Homo sapiens: one gene and its partners. The protein of the gene in region 2 interacts with the protein of the main gene of each other region in a pairwise test. Each region holds a gene or a part of one and is shown on either strand. Other genes may lie near its edges. The genes, in order: MYL11, PEX1, MSH5 and ANXA8.

Region 1 (7,987 bases), on a different chromosome or scaffold from region 2:
ACTCCAGCCACTGCCGCGGGCTCTGGGGATTCCGGGCCGGAGGGGAGCTGCGGCTTTGGGGCTTCGGGCGAGGCCTCCAGGGTCAGCACCACCACCGTGCTGCCCGTGACAGCCGGGGCTGGGGCCGGGGCTGGGGCCGGGGCCGGAGCAGAGGTCTCGGCCGACCCCGGGACCCAGGCGGGCCGCGCCTCCCCGGGGGCCACCAGGGTGACGGGGGCCGAAGTGGCCGTAGTCACTGGAGGTCCCGGAGCCACCACCACGACGGGCCCGGCCCGGGAACCCCGGGGCGGCGGCGAGGGGGCCGCGGGGGCGCCATGACGGCGCGGCGGGGCCACCAGGGGCGCCGTGCCCGTCTCCATGGCCGCGGGCCGCCCCTCACATCCCCCCGCCGGGGAGGCCGCAGAAGGCGCCGCCCCTCGGGCCTCCCGGCGAGGCCAGCCGAGAAAGGGGAGAGGGCGAAGGGCGCGGCTCGGCGCGCGCCGGGGGCGGAGCGGCCGCTGGGCGCGCAGAGGCGGGGCAGGGGTCGGGGGGCGCCGCGCGCCGGGGTCTCTCTCGAGCCCTCTCACCCCCTCGCGCGCTCTCGCCACCGCCCCCTCCCTCCTGCTTGGGGGCGAGCCGCCGACCTCGCGCCTGCGCACACGCCGCAGAGCCGGCTCCGCGCCAGCGTCTCGGCGTTCCACGCCTGCGCGCGGACTGGCTCATCGCGCTCCTTTTTTCTCCCGCCTAGTCAGAGGATTTGGACGAATAGTGGGAGAGAGAGAACTGGGCTTCTGCCAATCGTTGGAATCGTGGGCGGGGCTGGAGGCGAAAAAGGGGTGGGTCATCTGGAAAGAGGAAACGGAGAAAGCTAGGGCTGTAAGACCAATCAGAGGACGAGGAAAGGCAGGGGGCGATGGGACGAAAGAAATAACCAATAGAAACGCAGGGGTCTGAACCTCCTGGCCAATGAATATGACTGAAGGGTGAATGACCGCGGAAGGGCGGAGGAGGAGGCAGGGCTGTGCGAGTAAGAGGTGGGGCCTGGAGGCTTCTTAACCAATAGGAATGGTAAAAAGGGAGCCAATGAAAAGGGGAGCAGGTGGAGGTCAAATTGACAGGCAGTGATGTCTATTTAGGCGGTGACAGACAGCATCCGCAGTCAATAGGAAGAGCTGAAGAATTCTTTAGGTCTCCCAAAATGGTCAGTAAGGAATGACAGCTGGGAGGAGGCGGGGCAAGCTAGAGATTAATTCGCCCCGTCAGCCAATGATCGTGTTCTCCCACTTTGGCCACAGGACAGGAAAATAGATAGCTGTCTCAGCCAATGGGAGCATCCAAAGGGCAAAGATGCTGCCAGCAGGCGGTGCCAGCCCAGGGATAGTCGGTGACAACCGGAGACAAGCCTTATGGGAGGGTGACAGCTGGGGACAGCACGGAGAAGGGGCGGGGGCATTAGTGCAGCCCTCAACCAATGAGTGCCGCGCTGCCCCCTCTCGAGTCCTTTCCGGTCCCCTATTCTTCGTTCAGCTCCTGAGCCCCACACTCTGGTGGTCTGTGGGACCCTGAGCCCCACCACAGATCCAGTGCCCTGACCCAGTACTCTCATCCTTTACTCTATAATTCTCCGATCTCGGCCCCCAACTAACCCCAACACTCCAGGCCCAGGTGGCAATAGCCAGAGCCCCCAGATCCTATAAGCAACCCATATCTCTGCTTCACCCATTTCCTGCGGGAATCCCAACCTCCAAGTCCCTCTCCTCAGTTCCCATCTATCTGAGCTCCTCCCCAGAACCCAGGCTCCAGTTCCTCAGACCTTATCCCTCTGAGTACCCCCTCCATTTCTTCTAGTGGGGATCTCAAACCCCAAATCCATGAATCCCTAATACCATGAACTCCCCATATGTGTGTTACTATTCTTTTGGGGATCCAAGGCCCCAGTCCCGTCAACCCCTCTCCCCTCACTGCCACATCCCTCTGTGCTCCTCATGTTCCACTGAGAATCCCGACCTCAATCTCATGAGCGCTCCAGGTTGTCCTTAGATCACAAGCATAAAGACCTGACGTTATGAGCTCCAACCTTCCAACTTCTAAACGCCCTCTTCTTTCTCTGACCCCCATATTCTGATTTCCATATAGCATCCACCATCCTGGAATTCCAGTGAGACCTAGCTCCCGACTTCTCAGCTCCTCCTTGGTTTCTGAGTCCTCTAAGGTCCCTCACTCCCAACTCAGCCCCATGTCCTGTCAATTCCCACTCAGTGTCTGATCTCCTTCTCCTCACCTTTCCCATCTCCCGTTTGACCCAAGCTTCCTGAGCTCTCCTCCCATTCCCCTTTTTGGAGTCCTCCTCCTCTCCCAGAACCCAGTAATAAGTGGGCTCCTCCCTGGCCTGGACCCCCGTGGTAACCCTATAAGGCGAGGCAGCTGCTGTCTGAGGCAGGGAGGGGCTGGTGTGGGAGGCTAAGGGCAGCTGCTAAGTTTAGGGTGGCTCCTTCTCTCTTCTTAGAGACAACAGGTGGCTGGGGCCTCAGTGCCCAGAAAAGAAAATGTCTTAGAGGTATCGGCATGGGCCTGGAGGAGGGGGGACAGGGCAGGGGGAGGCATCTTCCTCAGGACATCGGGTCCTAGAGGGAGCGGGAGGAGAAGGAGATGGTTGTCCTTGCCAACTTGGGGCTTCCTCAGCCACTATTTTTCCAGACTTCTGCTGCATGGAGGGGACTGGGTCACTGAGGCCCAGAGGGAGAAGAGAGGGTACATCAAAGTCACACAATCAGCCAAGCTGGCTCTTGGCCAGAATAAAGTGAGCTGCCACTGGCTATCAAGGCACCTCACAGAAAGTGACCAGCTGGCTGTCCTTTTAGGGTCTTTTCCTCCCCTCTTGAGTTCCAGCCTCCACACCAGTACCCAGAGAAAATATTCTAGACTCATACTAGATCACATCCTTCTTCTGCATGAAACCTTTCCAAGGTTCCCCAGGGTCTCCGTCCTGTGCCTGGCAAAGGCCCCTCAGGGGCTGGTCACCAGCCCCATCACAATTCTGGCCACCTGAACACTTCTGATCTTCCGCTCTCCAGGCCTTTGCTCAGGCCATGCCCTCCGCCCAGCACATCTGCTCCTCCACCTGCACCTGACTCCCTGGCCCTCGTGAAGCCACTCCCATACTCCTAGACAGGGCTGCTGCGCCCTCCACTTCTGGGCTCCTGACCAGCTCTGGTATGTCAGTTTCTGCATTCATTCCTGTCTCTATTAGTTATAAGGCAAGTTCTGTGGGATGGGAACTACATCTCCCTTTTACAGAGGGGAAACCAAGGCCCAGCACAAAACCTGAGACCACAAAGCATCTTGCCTCAAAAAATCCCTCTTGGCTCGGCGCGGTGGCTCATGCCTGTAATCCCAGCACTTTGAGCACTTTGGGAGGTCGAGACGGGTGGATCATCTGAAGTCGGAATTCAAGACCAGCCTGGCCAACATGGTGAAACGCCATCTCTACTAAAAATACAAAAAATTAGATGCCGGGCACGGTGGCTCACGCCTGTAATCCCAGCACTTTGGGAGGCCGAGGCAGGCAGATCACAAGGTCAGGAGATCGAGATCATCCTGGCTAACGCGGGGAAACCCCGTCTCTACTAAAAATACAAAAAAATTAGGCGGGCGTGGTGACACGCGCCTGTAGTCCCAGCTACTCGGGAGGCTGAAGCAGGAGAATCACTTGAACCCGGGAGGCGGAGGTTACAGTGAGCCAAGATCACGCCACTGCACTCCAGCCCGGATAACAAAACGAGACTTCATCTCAAAAAAAAAAAAAAAAAGTAGCTGGGCATGGTGGCGGGTGCCTGGAATCCCAGCTACTCAGGAGGCTGAGGCAGAAGTATCGCTTGAACCCAGAAGGCGGAGGTTGCAGTAAGCCGAGATCGCACCATTGCACTCCCACCTGGGTGACAAGAGCAAGACTCCATCTCAAAAAAAAAAAAAAAGAAAGAAAAGAAAAAAAAATTCCCCTCTCCTTGAAGGGAGGTAGGAGACCCACCTGATCCCTCAGCTTCCACAGATGGCTCTTTCTCACCACCCTCACACTTACACACACTTGACTATGAACTCCACCATGTGGGGGTGGAGGGATTGTGTCTGCCAAAGTACATCCACAAAGCCCAGCCTAGCACGTGGCACACTGTGTGTGTTCAATACATGTTTACTGGGTTTATTTTATTAATTTAAAATAGAGACGGGGGCCAGGCGCAGTGGCTCACACCTGTAATCCCAGCACTTTGGGAGGCCTAGGTGGATGGATCACCAGGTCAGAAGATTGAGACCACTCTGGCCGACACGGTGAAACCCTGTCTCTACTAAAAATACAGAAAAAAAAAATTAGCCTGGCTTCGTGGCACACCTATAATCCCAGCTACTCGGGAGGCCAAGATAGGAGAATCACTTGAACAGGGGAGGTGGAGGTTGCAGTGAACCGAGATCACACTACTGGCACTCTAGCCTGGGAGACAGAGCGAGACTGTCTAAAAAAAAAAAAAAGGGAGACAGGGGTCTCACTATGTTGCCCAGGCTGGTCCTGAACTCCTGGCCTCAAGCAATCCTCCTGCCTCAGCTTCCCAAAGTGCTGGGATTACAGGTGTGAACCACTGCACCCAGACGTTTACTGGGTTTAAATCTGAGCCCACCCCACTCAGGGGTACAGGATCTGGTTCATTTATCTCCCAGAATGATGCCTTGGGTTGCGTCCCCTCTAAACTCTGGCACATTCCAGCCCCTCTTTGGGAGAAAGAACATCTCTTCTTGCCCAGGCCCTAGTGAGACATGCATCGCAAGACATGCTCCCCCCTTCCTCCCCGCTGGGCTCCAGCTGCTGCCAGCCCTCCAAGAAAGGAGAGGCCCTGAGTTGGGCTATTTTGGTATCTGGGGTGGGCACCCGCAGGGCTAAGGTTACCTTGGTATGTTAAGGGCTCCCTGGGGCAGGACTATATAACCCCAGAGGGACTGCCCCATGCTGACTCCTTGCTTCTTTCCAGCCGGAGCCGCTGCCTTGCCCCCCGGAGACTGAAGACATGGTGAGTGAGAATCCTCCAACCCCTGCCCAGATCCCTTAGACCTCAGGGCAGCCTCACCCTTTGAAAGAAAGTAGCTGGTTCCCAGTCCAACAAAAAGTTAAAAGGATGCTCATCTCTTTCTCGGCATCACTGATGGAAAACAGACTGTGTGATGGCCTAAAGGATCCAATCAATGATAATCCGCCCAGACATTCAACTCACAGGGGCCCAGTCCCTCTCAAAGCCTGATCCATTCATTCCTGTACTCCATCTTCCTAAGGCCCTCTGGCACCAGCCAGGCAATAACTCCCATCCCATTTTACAAATGAGAAAGTAGAGGCTCAGGCCAGGTGCTGTGGTTCACGCCTGTAATCCCAGCACTTTGGGAGGCCAAGGTGGTTGGATCACTTGAAGCCAGGAGTTCGAGACCAGCCTGGCCAACAGGCGAAACCCCGTCTCTACTAAAAATACAAAAATTAACTGGGCGTGGTGGTGCATGCCTGTAATCCCAGCTACTACGGAGGCTGGGGCATAAGAATCGCTTGAACCCGGGAGGCAGAGGTTGCGGTAAGCCGAGATCGCAGCACCGCACTCCAGCCTGGGTGACAGAGCAAGACTCTGTCTCAAAAAAAAAAAAAAAAAGAAAAGAAAAGTAGAGGCTCAAACAGGGCAAATGAGTGGCTGGGGTCACACAGCAAGTCTGAGGCTCAGAGGAGCTAGGCTCAGGACACTGAGAAGATAAGGAAGCTTCCACCCATTGTGGGGGATGGAGAGTTGGAGACCCAGGAGCCACAGACGGGAATTTGGGGAATGCAATCAAAGCAAGCCCCCTCAGCAAAGAGGTCCCAAGGAAGGGGAGACTCAGGCCAAAGGGCTGCTTTAGGAACAGGGACTCGAAGAATTCTGACTCTTAATCCATTGCCCCCAGAGAGGTGGAGGGACTGGTCCATGGGCCCCTTTGTTCAACCCTCACCCTCCAGGCACCCAAGAGGGCCAAGAGAAGGACAGTAGAGGGCGGAAGCTCCAGCGTCTTCTCCATGTTCGACCAGACTCAGATCCAGGAGTTCAAAGAGGTGGGTGAGGGGACGGGGAAACTGGAAGGCTGACCAAAAGCAGCCCTGCTGGCCCTCTCCCTGGAATGTGCACCTGCTTGAAGGAGGGGAAAGGTTTAGAATTCCTTCCTCCCCTCTCTGCTTGGGGTGGAAGAGGACAGTTGGCTGAGAGCCAGCATCTGATCCTCCTGGGGTAGGGATGCTGAGGCTGGGCCATGGGGGACCTAACCCTCCCCACCACGGCCCTCCCCAGGCCTTCACTGTGATCGACCAGAACCGTGATGGTATTATAGACAAGGAGGACCTTCGGGACACCTTCGCAGCCATGGGTGAGCCCCCTACCCCCAGGTGGGAATATTCAAGGCTGCAGAGTCTAGGAAATTCAGTGGCCTTGGGTTCCAGCCCTGTCAGCTCCACCTTGGGCCTCAGTCTACCCAGCTGAAAAATGAATGGGATCAGCTGAATTAGTGGGAAGCGCAGGCCCGGCCCCAGGAGCCTGCTCCAGCCCATGCTTCCCCCAACCCCCTCCAGGCCGCCTCAATGTGAAGAATGAGGAGTTGGATGCCATGATGAAGGAAGCCAGCGGTCCCATCAACTTCACCGTCTTCCTGACCATGTTCGGGGAGAAGCTCAAGGGTGAGTGGAGTGTCCTGGGTCCAAGGCCCCGGCTGCCTTTTCCCAGACCCTTCAGGGACCCATCAGCTTCATGTGCCCTCTGACCCCCACAGGTGCCGACCCTGAGGATGTGATCACCGGAGCCTTCAAGGTCTTGGACCCTGAGGGAAAGGGCACCATCAAGAAGAAGTTGTAAGCATCGGCTCCCCCACCCTTCCGACCCTTCCCCCACTCCACCAGCTGCTCCCACACTGACAGCCTCCTTAAATTTCTACCAAGGCTGGGCCCTGTGGCTCAGGCCTATAATCCCAGTGCTTTGGGAGGCAGAGGCAGGAGGATTTACTTGAGGACAGGAGTTTGAGATCAGCCTGGATAACACAGCATGACCCTGTTTCTAAAAACTTAACTAAAAAATTCGTGGGCTGGCCGGGCACAGTGGCTCATGCCTGTAATCCCAGCACTTTGGGAGGCCAAGGCGGGCGGATCATGTGAGGTCAGGAGTCCAAGAACAGCCTGGCCAACACGGTGAAACCCCGTCTCTACTAAAAATACAAAAATTAGCTGGGCGTGGTGGCGGGCGCCTGTAGTCCCAGCTACTAGGGAGACTGGGACATGAGAATCGCTTGAACCCTGGAGTCGGAGGTTGCAGTGAGCCAAGATCACGCCACTGCCCTCCAACCTGGGCGACAATAGCAAAACTCCGTCTCCAAAAAAAAGAAAAAAAAAAATTCGCGGGAGTGGTGGCAAACACCTATAGTCCCAGCTACTCCGGAGGCTGAGGCAGGAAGATCCCTTGAGCCCAAGAGTTCCAGGTTGCAGTGAGCCGTGATCAAACCACTGCATTCCAGCCTGGGCGACAGGGTGAGACCCTGTCTCAAAACAAACAAAAACCCAAAAATTCCTACGAAGGGTTAGGCACTGCCAGAGGTAAGGGAGTAGTTAAGATTGTGGTAATGGGCGGTAAGATTGCATTTTCACAGCAAATGTGGGCGGAGAGGGCAAAAGCGAGTGTCTGGGAGGCCAATGAAGGAAGTAGAGTGACCTGGGTTTTCAGGGGAGGCTGGGGCTGGCATCGGGGATGAGGTGCGAGGGAGTGGAAAGGAACCAGGAACCCAATCGCAACTCCCCTTGTGTCACCTCTCTCCAGCCTGGAGGAGCTGCTGACCACGCAGTGTGACCGCTTCTCCCAGGAGGAGGTGAGTGGGGACCGGGGCGGGGCCGGAGCAGCAAAGGGGCTGGGGCCGGGGAGACTAAGGGCCTGTGCGAGACGCCCCTACGTCTTTCCCCAGATCAAGAACATGTGGG
Region 2 (4,028 bases):
AGTTTAATACTAGTGATCCACTAAGTCTTTGTTTCTATCCCCTGGGATTCTGAGCTTTGCTGGTTTAGAACCTTGAACCTCCTGGGAGCAAGTGATCCTCCTACCTCAGCCTCCCAAGTAGCTGGGACTAGAGGCATACCATCATGCATGGCTAATTTTTTTTTTAAGAGATGGGGTCTCACTATGTTGCCCAGGCTTACTTGTATATTTTAATTAATGTTCTCCTTTTTGCTGTTCCCTTACCCCATTACTATATAGTTAAGATATTAGATACGCAGATTGTATTGATGGTGGCTAACTTTATAATTTAGTTCATATATGAGAGAATATCAAGATAAAATCATAACTGGAACTAGGAGAGGAATGGATGTCATTTAAATATCTTGGGCTTGGAGCTGGATGTAGTATAGTAGAGGGATGTGATTTCATTTCTGGTTGAGCGGATAATTAAATGTATTTGAATTATGTGTAAATTTCACATTTTTTGATATACAAAGAACAGATAATTGTATCAGTAGGTAATAGGATATTTTATTTCAAAACAGTGAAGAAGCTGCTAAGCATAAAATTTGTCAAATGCTACAAAGGTGATGAATATACAACTGGGAATTCCAAGAAATTTAAATTTAATTACATTCTTTATTATCTTTTCCTCAAAAGAAATAAATTAGTTCCACCATTTGGCTAATATTATTTCATTAAAGACTGAATTTAGATTTTAGGAAATAAAATATGGAATCTGTTATAATGTCCCAATTTATACTACAGTATTAATCTCAATCCTGATCATTACATAATTATAGCATTTACCAATCTGTGATTTTATAAATTAACCAAATTTGTTAAATTAAGAAGAAATTCATAGACACCATTTTTTTCCTGTTACAACATATGGAAAAGCCATCAAAAAACTTAACAGAACCAAATCAAAAAGAAGTATATTTTATGCTAAAGTTACTTTCTGTCCAGGTCGAAACATTGTTCCACTTTGATTTTTTCTCCTCTTTGGATTTTGAAAGCTTTCATATCTGAAAAAAGAAAGAGATAATTTAATATGTATAAATACTACCATTACAAAACAAAAGATAATGGATTGTTGGCAAACACAATTATATTTTAAGAAATGAACGGGAAATAACAAACTAGAAAAAAAAATTCCAGTCACAGAAATTAAAAAGAATTCTTACAAATAAAGTTGCACTCCAATAGAAAACGGAGCAAAGGGGATGAAGAGACAAGTTAGAAAAGATAAAATACAAATGACAATGAATAATATGAAAAATTATAACTTCTACACTTTAATCAAAGAAATGTAAATTATTGATATCATTTTTCTAAAATCAAAAGGGCCAAGTTTAGAAAAATACTGCAACACACAATGTTAGTGATGGTGCAGTATATCTGGCAGGCAATTTGGCAATACATTTCAAAAGCCTTAAAAAATGTGAGCTCCCTGTTATACAATTCCACCTCTATCCTAGTGAAACAATTAGATATGTGCATATATTCAGCTGCAAGAATGTTCATTACCACATTGCCTGGGAGCAATTTAAATGTCTAAAAATTGGATATTGTGGCATAGCTACACTATAAAATGACATTTAAAAACAATAAAGTAGTTAACATTTAAAATGTAAAACAATTTTCAGGATGTATGTGGATAAAGGGGGACTGCTATATAGCAATATGTACAGACTGTTCTTACCATAATAGGAAAACATATATAAGCATATAAACAAATATGCTTTGGGAGGTGGTGGGCTTAACAGAAATTTGTTTCCTTATTTTTCCTTACCTCTGTTTTCTGATTCTTCTTTAATAAATACATAGCACTAACGTATGTACACATACATACATACTTCAAAGTACTGCAAAATTAGATAACAAAAGGTAGCAGCTTCTAAAGACCAGGAATAAACATCTCTTAAATTGAATCACACTGAATCATTGACCTAGAATGGTTCCCAGTCCATGGGTCTCAGATGCATAGGTGGCCATAAACTCAATTGCAAGGATCCTTTAAATCCAATGTATAACAAATGTGGTCCACAAATGAATAAATCTGAATGTATTTAAATGTTCTTGAGGTCAATAAAATATTAATATAAATTATTTTGAAGGCAAAACAGGTATTTTTATAACAAAATTTTATAAACTATACATTAGAATCACTTTCAACTTTTAATTTTCCTTCTTATTTCTTCGAAGTTACTAAATTTTTTTTTTTTTTTTTTGAGACACAGTCTCGCTCTGTGGCCCAGGCTGGATGGAGTGCAGTGGTGCAATCTCGGCTCACTGCAACCTCCACCTCCTGGGTTCAAGCAATTCTCCTGTCTCAGCCTCCCAAGTAGCTGGGACTACAGGCACATGCCACCACACCTGGCTAATTTTTGTATTTTTAGTAGAGATGGGGTTTCCCCGTGTTGGTTAGGCTTGCCTCGAACTCCTGACCTCAGGTGATCCACCTGCCTTGGCCTCCCAAAGAGCTGGGATTACAGGCATGAGCCACAGCACCCAGCCCAAAGTTACTAAAATTAAATGAGTCCATTATGAATAATTCAAATATAATCAAATGAACTGGTTAATGAAAACTCAATTTTGACTTCTGTACTTCTGACATTTTGGGGTTTTTTAATGCATAGCTACGACACATATTTTTTGAATTAGCTTTTAAATATTCAAAATATTTTTATTTTAAACACGAACTTTAAAGGTTTAAGTGTAATACTATGTCACTTGTAATAGTAGCTGTACTTCCAAAACAGAATCTGTTACTTACAGCTCAGCAAAATTCTTCCAGTCATCTTCACTAATGGATGGTCTTGTGTGACCAAGTGCAGTCATTAAATGTGACTGACTAATAGCCAGTCTGGTTTTGATTGGTCCTGGTTGGTTCATGGATTCGTCCTCCTTAAGTAAAAAAAGAAATTGACGAAGAGTTAAATTAAGGATGTAAAAAAAAATGTGGTAGTCCAGTTGTTACTTCTTATTGTCAGTTTTTTCAAGAGACCATACGTTCTCTTCCTTATAAGATAATGAAACATTGAAAGCAAGGAAGCACATAACCATGACTGAGTTAATGTGTTCTGGTCCCTTGTTTATAAATATAGCTCGTTTATAAGTCAAAGAAATATATATCAAAAGGGTGAAACAATTTTTAAGAAGTTTTAACAATTATAATGAGGGGGAAAAAGCCATACTCCACTTTGGCTCCGGTATCTGCCTTTGATAATACTGATATCTGCCCTCAGTTGATCTCTTTGTTCTTGTGTAAGTTCTTGGCAACCCTCTTGTGAAGCTGTCCTTAACACTGGAGGCTGTGAAAACAACTGGTCTTTCCCAGGAACTCCAGGCAAATCCTGAGTCATGGAGCTTGGTGCAGAGAGACATTGTGAGCTCTGCATGGTAAATTGTAGTAATGAAAGATGGAAGGAAGAGGGGGAGAGAAAAAACTATGTGTTTACCAAATATAAAAATTAAACATTTTAAGCAATAAAACATTAACATAGATAAGTATACATGTTAATTAACTGAAATTAAGCAAGCTGAAAAGTTGTTCATCTTTTATAAAGGTTCACTGATACCTGTGTTATAGAACCACCATCAAGTGAAAATTGCCATAACACAGGGTAGGTTTTTTTAACTTTGTTGCTTAAATCCAACACACTAATGCCCAAGGACAGGTTTCTTCATTTTCAGAAAGTAAAGTTATACTAAGTTTCTGGGACATTTCTAAATAGAATAAATTAAAAACAGAATTAAAGACTAAAATTAAACCACCACCTTACTGTTCTTGGGAATAAAAATGAATTGCTTTTATATTTTTAAAGTCTGAGTTAGGCTAGGCATAGTGGCTCACACCTGTAATCCTAGCACTTTGGGAGGTCAAGGCACGCAGATAGCTTGAGCCCAGGAGTTTGAGACCAGCCTGGGCAATATGGTGAAACCTCGTCTCTACAAAACATACAAAAATTAGCTGGGCATGGTGGCATGTGCCTGTAGTCCCAGCTACTCAGGAGGCTGAGGTG
Region 3 (7,032 bases), on a different chromosome or scaffold from region 2:
TACTGAAATTTCGAAGGTTACAGGGATTAGCACGGCCACTGGGCACGGATGACACAAATTCAAGAAGCGTTCCATATTGGGGAAAAAAAAAAGGGCTGGGCATGGTGGCTCACACCTGTAATCCCAGCACTTTGGGAGGCCGAGGCGGGTGGATCACGAGGTCAAGAGATCAAGACCATCCTGGCCATCATGGTGAAACCCTGTCTCTACTAAAAATACAAAAATTAGCCAGGCATGGTGGCACACGCCTATAGTCCCAGCTACTCGGGAGGCTGAGGCAGGAGAATCACTTGAAACCCAACCCGGGAGGTGGAGGTTGCAGTGAGCCAAGATTGTGCCACTGCACTCCAGCCTGGTGACAGAGCAAGACTCTGTCTCAAAAAAAAAAGAGTGGGGGAAATATCAAGCAATTTTCTGTATTTCTATATGATTTCTATCACTTGGCAACCAAATAGTACATAAAAGGAAGTTTCTCTTTACAGAAATTTCTGGCTAATAAATGAAGAAAGAATCAGAGATTTAAATGCTACTACTTTGTAATTGCTAAAGAATTAATAGATGGCTGGGTGTAGTGGTTCACGCCTGTAATCCCAGCACTTTGGGAGGCTGAGGCGGGTGGATCACCTGAGGTCAAGAGATCAAGACCATCCTGGCCAACATGGTGAAATCCCGTCTCTACTAAAAATACAAAAATTAGCTGGGCGTGGTGGTGTGCGCCTGTAAGTCCCAGCTACTCAGGAGGCTGAGGCAGGAGAATCACTTGAACTCAGGAGGCGGAGGTTGCAGTGAGCCAAGATCGTGCCACTGCACTTCAGCCTGGCGACAGAGGGAGACTCACCTCAAACTAAATAAATAAATAAATAAATGAATAATAGATTTAGGTATTAAACATCAGAACATTTGCCAACATCAGAAAAAGAGAGACAATCGGACATATCAGACATTATGTTCCTCTACTTCTAAAACAGTATTGAAAAAAAAAAAACTCTGAACCTAATCATGCTTCTAGAACTAAATATTAATTTACAGAAACTATAGAAGAGAGAGAAATGTGCCAAAAACATCTAGGAAATGCAAACAGCAAAATCCAGGCTAATGGAAAACACTATAAGACAAATAATAATCTAGTTTCTTCAACAAATTGCCAGGAGAAGAAAAAGAGAAAAAGAAAGAAAGAACAAGAGAGAAAAGATAGAGAAGGAACCGGTAGATTAAAAAGGACTAGGGCCATCATCTGACTGGGCATCGTGGCTCACACCAATAGTCTCAGCACTTTGGGAGGCCCAAGCAGGAGGATCACTTGAGCTCAGGAGTTTGAGACCACCTTGAGCAACATAGTGAGATCCTGTCTCTACAAAAAATAAAAAATTGGTCAGGTGCAATGGCTCACGCCTGTAATCCCAGCACTTTGGGAGGCCGGGGCAGGCAGATCATCTGAGGTCGGGAGTTCGAGACCAGCCCGACCAACAGGGAGAAACCCTGTCTCTACTAAAAATACAAAATTAGCTGGGCGTGGTGGCACGCACCTGTAATCCCAGCTACTTGGGAGGCTGAGGCAAGAGAATCACTTGAACCCAGGAGGTGGAGGTTGCGGTGAGCCGAGATCACACCATTGCACTCCAGCCTGGGCTACAAGAGCAAAATCCCGTCTCAAAAATAAATAAATAAATAAATAAATAAATAAATAAATAAATGCAAGCAAAAAATAAAAACTTAGTTCGGTGTGATGGCCATCACCTGTGGTCCCTGCTACTCAGGAGGCTGAGGGGGGAGGATCGCTTGAGCCCAACAGTTTGAGGCTGCAGTGAGCTACAATTGTGCCATTGCACTCAAGCCTGGGTGACAGAGTGAGACCCTGTCTCAAAAAAGAAAAATTTCAGATATTTGATGATACCAAATAATACAATTTTTAAAGTAAGATAACAATACTGTTATTCTTTTTAAAAAATAATTTTCTTTTAGAAATTACCCTGAAATATTGGCCGGGTGAGGTGGCTCACGCCTGTAATCCCAGCACTCTGGGAGGCCGAGGCGGGTGGATCACGAGGTCAGGAGATCAAGACCATCCTGGCCAACATGGTGAAACCCTGTCTCTACTAAAAATACAAAAAAAAAACTTGGGCATGGTGGCATGTGCCTGTTATCCCAGCTACATGGGAGGCTGAGGCAGGAGAATCGCTTGAACCTGGGAGGCGGAGGTTGCAGTGAGCCGAGATCATGCCACTGCACTCCAGCCTGGTGACAGAGTGAGACTCCATCTCAAAAAAAAAAAAAAAAAGAAAAAAGAAATTACACTGAAATATTTATGGATGAAATGATATAATGGCTGGGACTTGCTTCAAAATAATCCAAGAAAGCCAGGTGCAGCATCTCAGGCTTATAGTCCCAGTTACTCTGGAGGCTAAGGTGGGAGGATTGCTTGAGCCCAGAAGTTAGAGGCTGCAATGAAATATGACTGCACCACTCTGCTCTAGTATGGGTGACAAAGCAGGACCTTATTTAAAAAAACAAACAAACGACAACAAAACCCACAAAATAATCCAAGAGGGGAAAGTAGAAAAAGATATAGATGACACATACTAGGCTGGGCACGGTGGCTCCCACCTATAATCCTAGCACTTTGGGAGGCCGAGATGGGCAGATCACTTGAGGCCAGGAATTTGAGACCAGCCTGGCCAACATGGTGAAATCCCATCTCTACTAAAAATACAAAAATCACTCCAGTGTGGTGGTGGGCACCTGTAATCCCAGCTATTTGGGAGGCTGAGGTAGGAGAATCACTTGAACTTGGGAGGCAGAGGTTGCAGTGAGCCGAGATCGCACCACTGCAATCCAGCCTGGGCGACAGAGCAAGACTCTGTCTAAAAAAAAAAAGAAAAAGAAATAAAAAAAAATTGGCGTAAGTTAAAGTGTTGAAACTGCATGGTGGGTACATGGGGGTTAATTATATTATTCTAAATATTTTTTACATTTTCCTGAATACAAAGTTAAAAAAAAAAAGAGGGAGGCCGGGCCTGGTGGTTCACACCTGTAATCCCAGCACCTTGGGAGGCTGAGGCAGGTGGATCACCTGAAGTCAGGAGTTCAAGACCAGCCTGGCCAACATGGTGAAATCCTGTCTCTACTAAAAATACAAAAATTTGCCAGGCATGGTGGCGGGCGCTTGTAATCCCAACTTCTCGGGAGGCTGAGGCAGAATTGCTTGAACCCAGGAGGCGGAGGTTGCAGTGAGCCAAGATCGCCCCATGGCACTTCAGCCTGGGCGACAGAGCGAGGCTGTCTCCAAAAAAAAAAAAAAGAGGGTAGAATAAAATTGGACAGCATGTCTAGGGTACAGACAGTCTGGAATACAGGCTGAGGGCCTTTACCTGGACTTTTGGGATTCAAGAAGGAAGGCCTTACCTTGTAGAGAACCTGCCAGTCGCTGACCTTGGTGTGGGACAACTTCATGCGTTTCAGAATCAGCTACAGTCAGACAAGGTTACAGCCGCTGTTTTCTCTTCCCTCACTCTAATGCCCCTCAAGAAGCCCACTGCCCAGTATCAGCCCTCAACCTCCTTCCCCACCTCCCTGCCCTCCACCCTGGGCTCACAGGCACGTTCTTGATGTGACCCAGGAGCCGATGCAGCATCTGAGCCATGTCCAGATTCTGGGGCAGCAGAAAAAACTGAATGACGTCCAGACGAGAACTGAGCTCCCCCAGGTCATGAGTCGGACGTGTGAACCATAGCCTGGAAGTGAGGGTTTGGGTGGGGGTACTACAAGTTACATCTATCATCTTGATCTCAGTTTGCCAAAAAGTGTGCTTGCAGTCCCTGGGGATTGTGGCAATATGTATCCACGATGTGCTATGGGAATGTAGTGGCAAGTGCAGTGTCCTACCCATTCAGGTGTGTTTACATGTATCTACTGAAAATTGCTAGATGTGAGCATAATTGTGTCTACATATCACAGTTTCAACGGATAAGACCGTGTGTCATTCCATGTATATAAGTAACGGAGCTTGTCAATATTTTAGAAGGAGAGCAGTGTGTTGAGGTATTTGTGTGCCAACACTGCAGCTCACTCTGAGGCTGAGTAAGAGACGGTGAGTCAGTATGAGTTTGTATGTCTTTTTAGCTGTGAAAGTGTCTCTGGGTAACAGCAACAGACATTCATCTTTTCATATTCTTCCTGTGAAAACATAACTGTCCCATTAGGGATGATAAGCTTTAATTCATAATAATGGTCAACACTGCAGAGAAAAAAGGATTGGGGAGGGACATTTAAGGGGCTTCAACAACGTCTTATTCTTTCGTTTTTTTTTTTTTTTTGAGACAGAGTCTCGCTTTGTCGCCAGGCTGGAGTGCAGTGATGCGATCTCGGCTCACTGCAACCTCCACCTCCCGGGTTCAAGTGATTTTCGTGCCTCAGCCTCCCGAGTAGCTGGGACTGCAGGTATGCGCCACCATGCCCAGCTAATTGTTGTATTTTTAGTAGAGTCAGGGTTTCACTATGTTGGCCAGAATGATCTCGATCTCTTGACCTCGTGATCTGCCCGCCTCGGCTCCCAAAGTGCTGGGATTACAGGCGTGAGTCACCATACCCGGCCAATAGTGTCTTATTCTTTTTTTTTATTTTATTTTTTATATAGAGTCTTGCTCTGTCGCCCAGGCTAGAGTGCAGTAGCACAATCTTGGCTTACTGCAACCTCCACCTCCCAGGTTCTGGAATTACAGGCACCCGCCACTGTGCTCAGCTAATTTTTGTATTTTTAGTAGAGACGGGGTTTCACCATCTTGGCCAGGCTGGTCTTGAACTCCTGACCTTGTGATCCACCCGCCTCGGCCTCCCAAAGTGCTGGGATTACAGGCATGAGCCACCGCGCCCGGCATGTCTTATTCTTAAATTGGCTGATGGATATATAGATATTTGTATTATTATTATTATTTTTGAGATGGAGTCTTGCTCTGTCGCCCAGGCTAGGGTACAGTGGCGGGATCTCGGGTCACTGCAACCTCTGCCTCACAGGCTTAAGTGATTCTCCTGCCTCAGCCTCCCCAGCAGCTGGAACTACAGGTGTGTGCCACCATGCCCAGCTAAATTTTGTATTTTTAGTAGAGATAGGGTTTCGCTGTGTTGGCCAGGCTGGTCTCAAAATCGTGACCTCAGGTGATCTGCCTGCCTCAGCCTCCTAAAGTGCTGGAATTACAGGCATGAGCTACTGCGCCTGGCCATTTGTATTACTATTAATAGTTTTTATAGAGACGAGGTCTTGCTATGTTGCCCAGGCTGTTCTCAAGCTCCTGGCCTCAAGCAGTCCTCCTGCCATGGCCTCCCAAAGTGCTGGGATTACAAGCATAAGCCACTGCACCTGGCCCGATAGTATTATTATTTACATCTTTTTTTTTTTTTCTGAGACAGAGTCTTGCTCTGTTGTCCAGGCTGGAGTGCAGTGGTGCGATCTCAGCTCACTGCAACCTCCGCCTCCCAGGTTCAAGCGATTCTCGTGTCTCAGCCTCTGGAGTAGCTGGGATTACAGGGGTGCACCACCACTCCCGGCTAATTTTTGTATTTTTAGTAGAGATGAGGTTTCACCATGTTGGCCAGCCTGGTCTCAAACTCCGGACCTCTGGTGTTCCACCTGCCTCGGCCTCCCAAAGTGCTGGGATTACAGTCATGAGCCACCACGCCCGGCTAATTATTTACATCTTTTTGTGTGTTGGAGGTATTTCCTAATAAATGAAAATAAATTCAGGCCAGGTGCGGTGGCTCACGCCTGTAATCCCAGCACTTTGGCAGGCCAAGGAGGGCGGGTCACGAGGTCAGGAGATCAAGACCATCCTGGCTAACGCGGTGAAACCCCGTCTCTACTAAAAACACAACAAAATTAGCCGGGCGTGTTGGCGGGCACCTATAGTCCCAGCTACTCGGGAGGGTGAGGCAGAATGGTGTAAACCCGGGAGGTGGAGCTTGCAATGAGCCAGGCCACTGCACTCCAGGATGGGTGACAGAGTGAGACTCTGTCTCAAAAAATAAATAAATAAATAAAATAAATTCATATACAGAAATAAATGTCTCATCTGTGTTTGTCTAATTCCGGGTATCCCTGTATACTTATTGGCCATGAGAGTGTGAGACTCTGTAGGGACTTGTGAGCCCACAAATTCTTTTCTACATAGAACAAGTACTAAGGATGCCATCTTATATAAGAGCCAACATGTGCACACACTAGGTCCTGAAGATTTGTATCTTACATTGCAGTCTGTGGCCAGTTACTTTGGGTTAGAACACCCCAGATTTGAATGAAGCGGAGCATCCAGATGGCTTCAAGGGTGGGTTTCAGGTACCTCTGCTCCTTGGTCACTGAGGGCTCCCACCAGAACAGTGTAGGCCAGTCTGTAAATAGCCATCCCCACTTTAGAAAGCACATGCGCTGCACTAAACACTTAGGTATCTCTGACTCACGCCCTGCTCGTACTGGGAGAGACTTTAGTTAAACCAAACTGTAAATTTAACAACTGAGAAAATGAAACCGTTAAAAGATAAGCAACTTGCCCAAAGTCATACCGCCAATGAGAACAGCTAAGTCTCAAAATCATGTCTCCAGACTCCTAGGACAGTGCCCTTTAGAGCATACTGTGACATTCAGTCATATTCTTGGTGCCTGTACAGCTTTTAGTTCTTGAACTCCTGGCCTCAAGCAATCCTCCTGCCTCAGCCTCCCAAATGCTGGGATTATAGGCGTGAGCCACCACATCTGGCCCTATATTATTATTTACATCTTTTTGTACGTTAGAGGTATTTCCTAATAAATTAAAATAAATTCGTATACAGAAATATTAATAAATATGTCACCTGTCCTTAGTTCATTAGATTATATGATGATTCTTCAAGTTATATGATCTCATGCCCTGTCTGATTCCATTTGGGGAATACGCATTCCTCCCCGACCTTAAATCCAGCTCTCTTCTCCACTGAGAATTCTCTCCCTCCCATCTGTGGCTGAGATTAAAGATCTGCACCTGAAGCACTGAAGAATGTGTGGGTAAT
Region 4 (6,887 bases), on a different chromosome or scaffold from region 2:
CCACCCCTTAATATCATTACATTAAGACTGAGGATTTCAGCATATGAGTTTTGAGGGGGAAGACATCGTAAACATTTAGACATAGTAATAACATCAGAGACTTTGGCCTAATCTTGGAGAGGGGAGAATCTTTAGAACTATGACAAAAAAATCAGCGCCATAAAGGAAATATTAAGTAAATTTGACAATCCAAAACTGAAATTTTCTATAGCCAAAAAAAAAAACACTATAAACCAAGCCAAAAGAAAAATTATACACTGATGAAAAATATTTGTCATAAAAATGATAATCCAATATAACAACCCAATATAAAAATGGTCAAAAGACATAAGCAGGCATTTTCCAGAAAAAAGGATAAGCAGGCAATGTACCCATGAGTAGATGCTCAGTCTCACTCACAGTTGAAGAAATGCAAGTTGTTGGGGAAATTAAAACCAAATTCAAATTCATTCTGCAGTAATCCTGCTGCCCTTGGTCCCATCGGGCCACTCCAGAGACTAATCCATTAAGATGGCCACATCCCACAGGCCACTCAAGGGGACACAAGTTCAGCAGGTGGATCACTAGGACATTCTTCCTCTTTCCAACAGCCATTGCTGAAGCCATAAAGAAAGCCCAGGAGTCAGGGGACAAAAAGATGAAGGAAATCACCGAGACAGTGACCAACACAGTCACAAATGCCATCACCCATGCAGCAGAAAGTCTGGACAAACTTGGACAGTGAGTGCACCTGCTACCACGGCCCTTCCCCAGTCTCAATAAAAAGCCATGACATGTGTACATTGAGCGCTGGATTTATTCCCATTTGGATGGAAACACTAGGCAAAGTATTTTCTTGTTGACATAACATATTTTACATATTTATGGTGTACACTTAAGTATTTATTACATGCACAGAATAGTGATCAATCAGGGTGTTTGGGGTGTCTATCACCTTGAATATTTGGTATTACTATGTGTTGGGTACATTTCAAGTCCCTTCTTCTAGCTACTTTGTTTTTTTGTTTTTGTTTTTGTTTTTGTTTTGAGATAGAGTCTTGCTCTGTCGCCCAGGCTGGAGGGCAATGGTGTGATCTCGGCTCACTGCAACCTCTGCCTCCCAGGTTCAAGCAATTCTCCTGCCTCAGCCTCCCAAGTAGCTTGGACTACAAGCGCAGGCCACCATCTCTGGCTAATTTTTATTATTATTATTTTTTATTGTTTTTATTTTTAGTAGAGATGGGGTTTCACCATGTTAGCCAGGCTGGTCTCAAACTCCTGACCTCAGGTGATCTGCCTGCCTGGGCCTCCCAAAATGCTGGGATTATAGGCATGGGATACTGTACCTAGCCTTCTAGCTACTTTGAAATATACAATACATTGCTGCTAACTATAGTCACCCTAGGTGAAGTATTTTTCAACAGAAACACTTTGCATGTCCCCCGTGTCTCCTCTGCTGAGGTGGACACTGGCACTGGGGCCCCTGCTGCTGGTTGGATAGGTCCTCATGATGAAACAGATGCTTCTCTGTCATGCTAAGTAAGATCTTTCATGTCAGGAAGGGGCTCTTCTGGAAGAATAGTTAGTGTCTGTGCTTCATTTCCTAAAAAACTGTTTCACCAGAAACTATATACAACTTTCAGGTGCCTCAGTGCTTCAAGACATGCTAAGGGAGGACCCTCATTTGTCTTGCATGTTTTTGGGATTTTTCTTGAGATGTTCTTGCAGGACTCAGGGCAGATAACAGACCAGCTTGATGAAGAATTTAGCAAGGAAGGCCCCCACTGAGCTGCTTCCTGTTCTCGCAGAGATCAGATAAGCATTTCTGCTGGACGGTTACAGAATCTGGTCAAGGAGAGACTGAGTCACTGCTCATCATCCTAGAAGCTGCTGTTGATTTTTTTTTTTTTTAAAGACGGAGTTTCACTCTGTTGCCCAGGCAGGAGTGCAGTGGCATGTTCTTGGCTCACTGTAACCTCTGCCTCCTGGGTTCAAACAATTCTCCTGCCTCAGCCTCCCCAGTAGCTGGGACTACAGGTGCCCGCCACCACTCCTGGCTAATTTTTTGTATTTTTAGTAGAGACGGGGTTTCACCATGTTAGCCAGGATGGTCTCGATCTCCTGACCTCATGATCCACCTGTCTTGGCCTCCCAAAGTGCTGGGATTACAGGCGTGAGCCACCGCACCTGGCCCAGAATATTTATTTAGAGACTGATGTCAGGCCTAAGTGTTGATAGTGGGTAGTAGTGGGCAAGATGCCTGGCCCTCTCTCCTTCTCATGAGCAAGTCAGTATCATAGAGGTTAAACATATCTTTAAGTAGCATTTAACTTAACATTTTTTAATTAAAAAAAAGAGAAGTAATTTGTAAAAATATTGCATCCCCTATTTCTCTTGCTGGAAGCTATTTGTTCTTAGCAGAAATGAGAAAAAAAGGTGTTTTGCTTAAAAAATAAGTGAGTTGCTCACCATACTTCTGGATCTCATCTAGAATTGGACTCACAGTTTGTGAACAGCCCAGGTATAGCCAATGTCTTAGCTTTGGAACGCTTGCCACTTTCCAGCTACAGCTGAACCTTATATCCTGGTTTGGTTCCTGATGACTTTCAAATTCTCCTGACCCAAACGCAAGCTCAGAAGCACAAGCACATTGTTGGTGGCAGTACAGACTGAAACACCCTCTTTGGATGGCAGTTCCTCTCACAGGACTTTATTCTCCAGGTATGCACAGGCACACACAGGTGCCCAAAGGATAAACACACAGATCTATTGTAGCATATTTGTATTACTGAGAGATTAGAAACATCCTAAAATGTTAACCAAATCGCTTGGATGAAAAGTTTTGCTCTGCTTATTAGGTTTGGCGTACAATATGGAGGTGACATCTGTTACTTCCAGTGTATTATAGATACTTTAGCTCCAAAAATGATACCTGTACCTAGATGGGCACCAAAAGGGAATGGTTAACAAATATTGCATATACAGGGGTATGGGGCAGCTCCGGGGCTGGGGATGGCGGCGGCCAGGTTTGCAGCGGCTCCAGGATGAGCGGGTGGATCCCGGGAAGCGTGGTGAAATGGGCTGGCTCCCGAGCCAGCCGGGAGGACGCTTACTACAGCTGCTCAGAAGCACCACTGGAAGCTCAGATGTAGGTGCCCCAGCCAGAAGCAGAGAGGGGTTCAGAGAAGCTACAGAGAAGCCCCTCCTGATGCCCCAGGGAGCAAGCCAACTCCTTCCAGGCTCCAGGAACACCACAAAGCAATATGAAACCTGTTCATGAGAGGAACCAGGAATGCCTTCCACCAAAGAAACGAGACCTCCCCATGACCAGCTGCTCCACTAACCACACATCCTCCAGTGATGCCTCTGAATGGTCCCGAGGGGTTGTGGTGGCCGGGCAGAGCCAGGCAGGAGCCAGAGTCAGCCTGGGGGGTGATGGAGCTGAGGCCATCACCGGTCTGACAGTGGACCAGTATGGCATGCTGTATAAGGTGGCTGTGCCGCCTGCCACCTTCTCACCAACTGGCCTCCCATCTGTGGTGAATATGAGCCCCTTGCCCCCGGAAAAAAAAAATAATATTGCATATGCAGTTGATTAAATGGCATACTCCATGGCTATTAGGAGTGATGAAAATGGGCTGGGTGCGGTGGCTCATGCCTGTAATCCCAGCACTTTGGTAGGCCAAGGTGGGCAGATCACCTGAGGTCGGGAGTTTGAGACCAGCCTAATCAACATGGAGCTGTGTTTACTGAGTGGGGCTTTCGCAGGCTGGAGCTAAGAATTTCCAGTATGCGTAACAGCCACAGCCCAAATATCTGCCAGTGAGTTGTGTAATTCCCCAGAGCAGGCCTGGGCAGTGTCTGGGTGGGGCCTGGGAGCCACAGGAGATGCCCAAAGCCAGGCAGAGCCCGGGGGCGAGGGGACGGCAGGCAGGTGTGGCGCTGCCCTGGGCGGGCTTGCACCCCCACACCCAAGTGAGCGGCCTGCTCACTCCTCAGCTGCAGGAGCCAGACGTGTGGAGTCCCAGCAGAGGCCAACCTGTGTCTCTTCATCTCCCTGGGAAAGGTGCCCCCGAGGTGAAAGAGATGGCCTGGTGGAAATCCTGGGTAAGTGGGAGCTGGCAGGAGATTTGGGTTCCTGCATGGTGTTGGGTGCTGGTCACCAGGGAGTCCTGAGAAATGTAAAGTCGCCCTTGGCTGGGAGTGGCTCAGTCTACATTTGGCTGCCTCCTGGGCCAAGCATGGAGGGTGGGAAGGGGCCGAGAAGAAACAGTCCCAGGCCTAGAGTGCCCACGGCAGGGATGGGACCTGGGCCGGGAGACAGGCTGATGAAGAAATCTAGAAATGCAAGGGGGAAGCTGAGGTTTGAGAAGAGTCCAGGGGAGGGACCCTTGCAGGGGTGGGGCCACTCAAAGGAGGGGGTATCATGGTTGAGCCTTGTGTGTAAATGTGTATGGGGTGCACACACGTGTGCATTTGGGGAGAATCAGGCATACTGCTCCTGGCAGAGGGAACTGTGTGCAGAGGGTCAGAGGGCAGGGAGCTTGGCTTCGAGGGAAGCTGCTCAGCACAGCTCAAGGGTCCTGGTACCGGAGGAGATGGACCTGGGGAAGCAGGCAGGGCCAGGTCCTGAAAGGCCTTGCCTGGCAGGCTGAGGAGTTAGGCTTTACCTTAAGAGAAGTGGGAAGGCACTGAAGGGCTTTGAGCATGAGAGTAACCTGAACCTGCTGTTGGGGACCCATCAATGCCTTCACCTCAGGGATCAATGATGTTCATTTGTCAAGACTGGAGAGGGAAGAGGGGAAGCAGGAGGACCTGGCCTGCTAGAGCCTGGAGGAACCCGGGGCTCAGGGCAGCCCATCCCCAGCAGAACTGATGGGTTCTCGGGAGCTTTCCATCTATGGTTGAGCCTGAGGCCATCGCTGTGCTAAGGAGTTGAATATCCAGAAGGGGACAGAGGTGACATCTCCCGGCTGCCGGCTCTGCACACCCTTTTCCTTTCCTCCCAGGCAGCCTCAGGATGTCAGGGCTGCACTTTCTGTTTTGCAGATGATGAAATGAAGGCTCAGAGACACTGAGTGACTTGCTAGGGTCCAATGGCCAGCAGGCTCCAGTCAGAGAGCAGTTGGGTCTCTCTGCCCAGCCCCAGGTTCTCTGTGAGCTTTTGTGGGATACCCAGGCTTGTCCAGCTTCAGGGAGTCTCTGGATCATAGATGTCGCAACCCAAGCAAGTGTCCTCAGGGTCAGACATGCTAGGTTCTGGACAGGTGGGACAAAGAGGAAGCCAGGCTGAGGTGGGGCAGCTGTCCTGGCCCCCAGGGAAGCAGCCTTCTTCCAGGACAAGGGGCCATGGAGGCCTGCAGCTTCAACCAGACTGCTGGGAACCTGCCTTTGAGGAGGTGGACATGGCAGGGAGAGCCCAGTGCTGGGTGGTTTCCAAAGTCAGTTGCTGGCCAAGGCAGTCTGGCACTGGGCCTTGCACCCAGTGCAGCAGGACAAAGGGCTGTCCATGTAGGGACCTGCCAAATTGACAGGATCACTGTGACACTCACTGAGTCCCTACTCTGTGGCCGGACCCTTCTCTAAGCACCTCACATTCAATATCTCCCTTGAACCTCACAAGGAGTCTATGAAGTAGACACCAGTATCCTTATCCACAGATGAGGAAACTGAGGCACAAGTAGGCTAGGCAGGTGCCCGAACTCACTAGTAAGTGTGAGAGTCTAGGTGAGAATCTGAACAGCCTGACTCCAGGGCCAAAACCATACCCTGGTCGTCCATACCCCATGTGAGAGCTGGCTAGGGGTAGCAAGTTCACAGGTAGACCCCACCTGCAACAGCTGAGCTGCTAGCGAAGACCCAGTGTCCTCTAGGCACAAAGCTGGGCCAGGAACGCGATGGGAGGAGATGAGGGAGCCACTGGAGAGAGATCTGTCTGCAGGCAGGGTCCATCTGCACCTCTCTTTTTGGTGTTGCCTTTTCCTCTGTGTCTCTCATAGAGACAAACCCATCTCCCAGGCCTCTGGGCAGCCACGTAGCAGGGGAAGGCCAAGGCGTGGCAGCTCCCCTGTGCCTGTCACAGAACAAGTTATATTAATAGATGTAGTCACAGGCTGGTCTGAGTCACCTTTTCAGTGAAAATGTGCCTGTCTGGACTAGCACGGCCCTGGGCAAGACCCTGCAGGAGCCTGAGGCTGACCCTTCCTTCTCAGCAGGAGGTCTGGAGCTCCAGGACTCCACACTGATAGCCAGGGCTCCGATTCCCAGAACACTTATTTTCTAAAACCTTAGAGTGGGAAGTGAGACAGAGGCTTCTCAATGCAGCAAAATCAGAACCAGCCAGGGAGCTGCTTACAAATGCTGCACCTGAGACCTACCGCACCCCTGCGGGACTGCATGCTCCTCAGGGATGCGGTTACACAGCCTGGCCACTCGCTGGTGCACCACAGCCCCCGAGTGCTGGGGCAGAGGGAAGCCGGCAGGCACTGAGAGCTGAGATGCCTCCCACATTCCCAGATGACCTGCGTTCCTGTGGGTGAAGCTTCCTTCAGTGGAACGTTCCAGGAACACTCATTGTCTGGGAAAGGTGGAGTCATCAGTAGGGCAGGGGAGGTAGATAGAGCTCAGCTTCTGAGTCAGGCTGGGGAGTCCCAACAGCATCACTTACTAGCTGTGTAAGGGAGTCCAGCTCCCTTTCTGTAAAGTGAGGCATCAGTACTTACCTAGCACAACTGTTGAGGAAGCCATGACATAAGCATTGCTTCTAAAGCACCTGGCCCAGGTCTGGCACACACAAGGGGCTTGAAGTGCTAACAGGAGTAATAGCAGAGCGTGACTCCACAAGCAAGGGATATCGTGTGTGTGGACACCGATGAGCAATATCTGGGACCACACTGGCTCTCTCTGGA

What was found.
Region 1: the proteins of PEX1 (region 2) and MYL11 interact in binary tests that used the Homo sapiens proteins (3 or more experiments, as listed by UniProt).
Region 3: the proteins of PEX1 (region 2) and MSH5 interact in binary tests that used the Homo sapiens proteins (3 or more experiments, as listed by UniProt).
Region 4: the proteins of PEX1 (region 2) and ANXA8 interact in binary tests that used the Homo sapiens proteins (3 or more experiments, as listed by UniProt).

What each region holds. Positions count from the first base shown.
Region 1 is NC_000016.10:30,369,825-30,377,811, forward strand, and holds the start of MYL11 (myosin regulatory light chain 11), read left to right. Parts: upstream 1-4,977; 5' UTR 4,978-5,033; coding exon 5,034-5,036; intron 5,037-5,995; coding exon 5,996-6,088; intron 6,089-6,320; coding exon 6,321-6,396; intron 6,397-6,598; coding exon 6,599-6,703; intron 6,704-6,795; coding exon 6,796-6,874; intron 6,875-7,829; coding exon 7,830-7,878; intron 7,879-7,971; coding exon 7,972-7,987. Other genes in the region: TBC1D10B (TBC1 domain family member 10B), read right to left, coding at 1-359. UniProt on the Homo sapiens protein: Myosin regulatory subunit that plays an essential role to maintain muscle integrity during early development. Plays a role in muscle contraction.
Region 2 is NC_000007.14:92,486,514-92,490,541, forward strand, and holds the end of PEX1 (peroxisomal ATPase PEX1), read right to left. Parts: intron 3,399-4,028; coding exon 3,201-3,398; intron 2,911-3,200; coding exon 2,780-2,910; intron 1,029-2,779; coding exon 944-1,028; 3' UTR 512-943; downstream 1-511. UniProt on the Homo sapiens protein: Component of the PEX1-PEX6 AAA ATPase complex, a protein dislocase complex that mediates the ATP-dependent extraction of the PEX5 receptor from peroxisomal membranes, an essential step for PEX5 recycling.
Region 3 is NC_000006.12:31,750,000-31,757,031, reverse strand, and holds part of MSH5 (mutS protein homolog 5), read right to left. Parts: intron 3,732-7,032; coding exon 3,593-3,731; intron 3,466-3,592; coding exon 3,403-3,465; intron 1-3,402.
Region 4 is NC_000010.11:47,481,112-47,487,998, reverse strand, and holds the start of ANXA8 (annexin A8), read left to right. Parts: upstream 1-3,883; 5' UTR 3,884-3,978; coding exon of another isoform or gene 3,979-4,065; coding exon 4,066-4,086; intron 4,087-6,887. Other genes in the region: protein FAM25G, read left to right, coding at 591-724. UniProt on the Homo sapiens protein: This protein is an anticoagulant protein that acts as an indirect inhibitor of the thromboplastin-specific complex, which is involved in the blood coagulation cascade.